2 linked regions of the Homo sapiens genome follow. The protein of the gene in region 2 interacts with the protein of the main gene of each other region in a pairwise test. Each region holds a gene or a part of one and is shown on either strand. Other genes may lie near its edges.

Region 1 (3,506 bases), on a different chromosome or scaffold from region 2:
TCTTTTCTATTATGTAGGGATGCCAAGTTATTTTCTAGGACAGTAGGGTTTTCCCAGTGCTTATGGAGTTATGTTACGGATGTGCTTCATTCACCAGGGTGAAGCACGTATCTGACTTTCATCATCCCCAGCACTATATATGCTCCCAGGCTATATGGCTACGTCGGCTTGAGCCACTTCACCTCAAAGCCAGTGACACAGGGGCTATGCAGTGGGATTGTCCATGTTATCTCACAAGACTACTGAGGTACACAAAGCTGTGTCTTCTGCCCAGAATGTTCACCTGAATACAAAGACTGCATCTGATAAATAACCTTACCTATAACATGGATTCCTGCAGTGCCTGTCACTAAAAGTGCAATCTTCTTCTTGAACCACCATCATTATCACCACCACCACCACCACCACCACCACCACCACCACCACCACTACCACCACCACCACCACCACCACTAACAATTACAATAAATGGTGACTGTGTCGAAGTTCCAGGACGGAAGGCTTCATGCATGACATTTTCTCCCTATGAGGTTAGAGCATTTCTTTCTACTTATATAACTACCCACTAGCTCCAAAGGCTGTGAATCCTGGCCCTACTGTGGTCAGAACTGAAGGACAGGAATGACTCAAGGATACTTTTACAAAAGTTCTGAAATTGTGCCACAAGTGGTGGCCAACTCTAAGAAGGGGCGACCAACCAACACCAGGCCGGTCTGGAATCAGAGGAGAGAAACCCCATCCTGGAGAGGAGGGTCCCTCCCATGAAGAAACCAGATGCCCTTGGGATGTCCAGCTGATAAGAGAAAAGTGGGTAGGCCTAGGGGAGGCTGAGCAGGAGCTTTTTTTCCTGGGGTTCCATGGTTTCCTGCTAGCTGAGGAAGACAAGGCAGATTCTTGCTGATCTGGGGGTCAGATTCTTCCTCTTCCTGCCCCCCAGCCACTAACTGCCTTCAGAAGTGGTTTCAGCTCCTTGAGTTTAGTGGAAGATTTTGCTTTGGAGGAGGCCAAGGACAGGAAGTAAGATATAAGCAATAACAAGAAGCCTCACATGTGTTGTGGTGTCTGGACTTCTCAAAGTGCTTGCACAGCCATTATCTCATTTTACAGTGACCCCATGAAACAGGTTAGAAAGTGTTATCTCTATTTTGGAGAAGGGGAAACTGAGATCTGAGGGTTTCCTGAGGAGAAACCCTAGAAGATGAGAGAAGAGTGGCAAAGAGTTGGGGGTGGCAAAGAGCTGCCACAGGAACTGTCACCCTGGGACACATGGCGGCTCTAGATGCTGCAGAAAGCTGAGGTCAGGCAGGGAGATCTCTGCCAGGAAGGGCGCATGCGGGGGGTGCTGCTCAGCAAGCCCCAGTGGCGCTTACTCAAGCCAGGCCTACCCTGGGCCCAGTCTTCTGCATTTCCTTCCCTCCCTGGGGCCGGCCATTGCTCCGGGCATCTGTTCTCCCCATCTTCCTCCTCCTACCTCCCATCATCAGGCTCCACAGTCCCAGAGGCAGGGCTGGTGGGGGAGTTAGGAGCTGTAGGGTATCTAAATACTCCCTCCTATGACAACCCCAGTCTCTTCCCCACCTGCTTCAATCTTCTAAATGAGCTAAGAACCCGAGATGGCATGACATGCCTAAGCAGTCTTAGGCACTCTTTCAACAACTCTAATAAAGGTGATAATAAGAGCTAACACTGAACATTTATTACTAAATTTGAACCTAAGCCATCTAGTCCTGAAGCCCATGCTCTTAATCACTACTGTGTCTCCTAAGAGACACTGGGCCTGGCACTGGGGGGTTAGCATCTGGCTCAGCTACCTTCATCTTCTTCAAAATGGCTGGACACTGGCCGGAATGGAGTTGCATGCAGGAAGGAACAAGGCGGAGGGAAAGGCTCAGTCAGTAATGGAAGAGGGTCAGTCTCCAGGGCAGAAGCTGATGCTCCTTACTGGCCTCTGAAGCAGGAGTACAGATGGAAGTCTCTAGACTCTTTCTCCTGGGGCAGAAGACTGCCTTGAGAATTTCCTCAGGAGCCTGATACACGTATGGAGAAATATGTTCACACCACAATGATGAGAAGAGTTGCACACCAGGAAAGCTCTGCAGATGGACCCTGAGGCTCTGTCAATGGGAGACCACCAAATACAGTACCGGGAACCTCTGAGGGGCACTGATGCAATGAAACAGTGGCACAGGTCCACGAACATGCACCCGGCAATACCACGTCTATGTTCAGTTCCACACCTTTAATACAGGCACAACTCCCCACACACACAGGTAAGACCCATCTCTGCCCACAGCATACACACCCATGGCCCCCTACCTGTCATCACAGTAGGTGAACTTCATGTCCATGCTGTGGCGGCTCAGGAAGGTCTTGCTATCCAGGGGGATGTCCATGTGGGATGGGTGCTGGATTGGTTCACACATGATGATGAGGCAGGACAGCAGGGGCTCCTTGTAGCCACACAGACTATTGTGAGGAGGGCAGTTGTTGTAGACTTTCACCTGGCCCGTGCAGTGCAAGACCTGAGACAGGCGTGGAAGGGTCAGACATGGAGCCGAGAGTGCTGGGGGTGGGGGTAGGGCCTTAGGCATCCCCTGCACCGCCGTTACCCTACACCTGGGACTCCAACCCAGGCCTGATGTTGCCCTACCTTCCAGGTGGCTGACTTGAGGTTGACAGTACGGCCTCTGTTGGTGACCGTGCACTTCATCCTCATGAAGAAGTCCCGCTCTGTGGACATGTCTTTGCTTTTTTTCCCAAAACCAGAGCCTGGATGTGGAAGGATGGGAAGAACCAGCTGAAGTCAGTTTTATATGGATATTCATGAGAGGGGCCCAGCTGCAGTTTTTCTTGGCAGCCTATTGTTTATATTTTCCAAATATCTGCTCTCTTAGCACCTGTGGTCTGCCATCAACACTGAGCTCCATCATGGCCTGTGAACTAATGGTTCCCACTCTCAAGCTTATCTCCTCAACTGGAGCATAAACTCCCACAAGGGAGGAGCTGCTCCATCATTTGATTTCCCATTGCATCTGGAACATGGTCAGTGGTGCCTTCAGAGCAGCGACACAACGACTGCCTATCAGCCACTAACTCAGCCACCCTTTCCTGGGGCAGGCCCAGGTCTTCTCGCAGAAATTCCAAGGGACAGTCTGAGTGAGGCCACAGTTACTCCAAGGGTGTAAGCCTTCCTCACAGGTTAGAAATGTCTCTCCGACACTCCCGTCTTTCCTTTATAACCTGTCTCTCAGGAGGAATTTAACCCCTCCTGTACCCCATTTGCAAACTGCAATAGCTGTGTTCAGGATACCATGCCATTAGCTTTGTCCCTGAAGTGACATATGTATCAAGGCTCTAGAGAGAACTCTGGTACGAATCTCCTTACAGTGGACTTGGTGAGCAAGTCCACTTTATGGATTAACTCAACCTGGATCATATCCTCTCTCTCAGCAAAAATTAAATCACCAAGACCAGCAATATAGCTTACTTCCTTATAGTTGCCAAAC
Region 2 (3,506 bases):
AAATTGTTGAAGAATATTCTTGCCAAGCAACATATCACAACCTAAAATATCCCCTGTGAGATGTGCTTTCCTGGAGAGGACCTGCCTCTAGTGTTGCCTTGTGTGTGGAGAGGGGGAGCCTGCAGGGAAGGGCTAGGATGGTCAGGATCTCTTCAGTGCATGCCCTCAGGCCCACAGTGCTGACTTCTGCCAGCCTGAGGACAAACGATTATTGCATGTTTATTCATGTAGTCAAGAAATAACAGCACTGAGCGTCTACTCTAACCCTGTGCTGGGTGCTGGGGCATCAGATGACAAAAAAGATAAAGCTCTTGCCCTCACAGAGCTTAACTTCCTGGTGGAGGAGATAGGTAGATAACAAACAGGTAAACATAAATTAATATATTCAGGTGGCAATATGTGCCAGGGAGAAAACAAAACATAGATGCAATAGAGAGCCAGGAGGAACCACTTTGGTTTAGGGGTGGTCAGAGAAGGCCTCTCCAGAGATGTCAAAGTGAGCTGAGACTCTGATGGTCAGGAAAAAAAGAAAAAGGCAAGAAAGCATCTGGGGAAGAAGGAACAAGCTCAGCAGCTTTGAGGGCTAGAAAGGAGACCAGAGTGCTGCAGATTCACAGGCAAGGAGAGGCAGGTCAGAGAGGTAGGCAAGGCCAAGTCATGCAGAGCCTTGGAGGCCAAGGGCAAGCGTTTGGATTTCATGCTTTAAATAACAGAGAGAAATGATTTTATTTCTGTTGTAAAAAGATCACTGTGACACCTAGGTGGAGAGCAAGGGACCATAGGAGGTAAGAATGAAAATAGGGTATCCTGGTAAGAGGCCGTGGGTGAAATCCAAGTAAGAAATGATGGAGCCTTAGCCTAGAGAGAAGCAAAAGAGATGGGATATGTATTTGTATAGGCCGGGGGTGTGGAGGTTTTTTCTAGCCATCTCATACCCCTCACCAGCCATTTTGACCTCTCTGGGCATTTTATCAGTTTCCCCATTGTCCAATCTGAGAGCAGTCTCCAGGGAAGGAGAGAGCAGTCTCCAGGGAAGGAGAGTCCAGCCTCCTCGGGCTACAGGTTCCACTGCATCACCCTAGAACCACTCTCTTCCTGGAATAATATCAGGAAGTTCTTCTTGGTGTCTACATTTCCTGCTGTGATCCATTTATTTTTGAGAGAGGGGCAAAAGTGGGCCAAGACTCTGGGATCAAGGGAGATTCTTAGCTGTATAACCACCTGAGAAGCCCCGCTCTGGGGAGGCCAGAATAAGAACTAGAAATCAGAGTTTGATGTTCAGGTTAGAAGCCATGGATGAGCTGCTGCTGTATTTCAGTTTTCCTGCCTATTCCCCAACCCAGCTCCACCCATCCTGGCATCCTGGGAGAGCTCTTCGGATCACCAACCTTGGGAATCCCTCCCCTCCTTAGCTGCACATTAAGGGGATGAGGCACCTATGTACTCAGCCAGTGTCCTTTGCCTTCTGCAGTGGTCCCAGTCACCAGCCTCCTGCTCTCCCACTGTCATCCTCCTTTTTTATTTTATTTATTTATTTTTGAGATGGAGTCTTGCTCTGTCGCCAGGCTGGAGTGCAGTGGTGTGATCTCAGCTCACTGCAACCTCCACCTCCCGGGTTCAAGTTATTCTCCTGTCTCAGCCTCCGGAATAGTTGGGATTACAGGCGTGCCACCACGTCCAGCTAATTTTTTTTTTTTTTTTTTTGAAATGGAGTCTTGCTCTGTCACCCAGGCTGGAGTGCAGTGGCCTGATCTTGGCTCACTACAAGCTCCGCCTCCCAGGTTCACGCCATTCTCTTGCCTCAGGCATACTCCTGCCTCAGGATTAGCTGGGACTACAGGCACCCGCCACCACACCCGGCTAATTTTTTTTGTATTTTTAGTAGAGACAGGGTTTCACTGTGTTAGCCAGGATGGTCCTGATCTCCTGACCTGGTGATCTGCCCGCCTCAGCCTCCCAAAGTGCTGGGATTACAGGCGTGAGCCACCGCGCCCGGCCTAATTTTTGTATTTTTAGTAGAGACAGGATTTCACCATGCTGGTCAGGCTGGTCTCAAACTCCTGACCTCGTGATCCGCCCACCACGGCCTCCCAAAGTGCTGGGATTACAGGCATGAGCCACCATGCCCGGCCTTTATTTTTCATTTTTTGGAACAGAGTCTCACTTTGTCACCCAGGCTGGAGTGCAGTGGCATGATCTCAGCTGACTGCAACCTCTGCCTCCTGGGTTCAAGCAATTCTCCTGCCTCAGCCTTCCGAGTAGCTGGGATTACAGGTGCCCACCGCCACGCCTGACTAATTTTTTAATTTTTTAGTAGAGATGGGAGTTTCACTTTGTTGGCCAGGCTGGTCTCAAACTCCTGATCTCAAGTGATCCTCCCACCTCAGCCTCCCAAAGTGCTGGGATTACAGGCATGAACCACTGCGCCCAGCCACCCCCCTATGTGATTTTATTTATTATTTAATTTTATTTTTCTTTTGAGATGGAGTTTCACTCTTGTTGCCCAGGCTGGAGTGCAGTGGTGCGATCTCAGCTCACTGCAACCTCTGCCTCCCAGGTTCAAGCGATTCTTCTGTCTCAGCTCCTGAGTAGCTGGGATTATAGGCTCCCGCCAACACGACCAGCTAAGTTTTGTACTTTTAGTAAAGATGGGGTTTCGTCATGTTGGCCAGGCTGGTCTCGAACTCCGGACCTCAGGTGATCCACCCGCCTTGACTTCCCAAAGTGCTGGGATTATAGGCGTGAGCCACCATGCCTGGCCGCCTCCTATGTGATTTTTAAATCCACAGGATCCCACTGCTTATAATGCCTGCCCATCCTAGATATGACTGTTGTGAGCTTTAAGGGAGTTTTGTAAACTCTGAGGGGCGAGGCTGTTTCACTTCAGAAAAATGGAGGAAATAAAGACAAAGCATCTAGAAGAAGAAAGACTGGAATCTGCTCAGACAGGTTCTGAGAACAGTCTTCCCTCCTGGGTCTTAGTGGAGCCCAGAGGTGGAAGACACTAGGACCTAGGGTGGAGCAGCCTTTAGTCTCAAGCAAGCTTGTCCAACCCGTGGGCCTGTGGGCCACTTTCAGCCCAGGGTAGCTTTGAATGCGGCCCAGGCCCAACATAAATTCCTTGTAAAATTTCTTAAAACATTATGAGATTTGTTTGTGATTTTAAGTTCATCAGCTATCGTTAGTGTTAGTGTATTTGTGTATTTTATGTGTGGCCCAAGACAATTCTTACAATGTGGACACCCCTGATCTAAAGGCTGTTGGTCCTTTCTTGGCTGTTGCTAATCTGCAGGGCTGTAATAATGGAGCCTCCCAGGGGACAACCAGGGCTCCGCCCCAAACTCACCTCTGACTTCTCTCTGCAGCTCAGGTACCAGACAGTGATGAGCAGTTTGTTCCTGATTTCCATTCAGAAAACCGTGAGTAGAGGTCCCTGGGGAGAGGGTATAGGGAGTGGAGGATGGCAGGAAGTGAGTCATAGGATAGAGAATCACAAGAGAGCAGCT

What was found. The genes of interacting proteins can lie anywhere in the genome.
Region 1: the proteins of ETV4 (region 2) and EPAS1 come close enough for resonance energy transfer, tested with the Homo sapiens proteins (one study listed by BioGRID).

Annotation. Positions count from the first base shown.
Region 1 is NC_000002.12:46,359,901-46,363,406, reverse strand, and holds part of EPAS1 (endothelial PAS domain-containing protein 1), read right to left. Parts: intron 2,770-3,506; coding exon 2,651-2,769; intron 2,523-2,650; coding exon 2,317-2,522; intron 1-2,316.
Region 2 is NC_000017.11:43,536,339-43,539,844, reverse strand, and holds part of ETV4 (ETS translocation variant 4), read left to right. Parts: intron 1-3,070; exon of another isoform or gene 3,071-3,365; coding exon 3,366-3,419; coding exon of another isoform or gene 3,420-3,433; intron 3,434-3,506.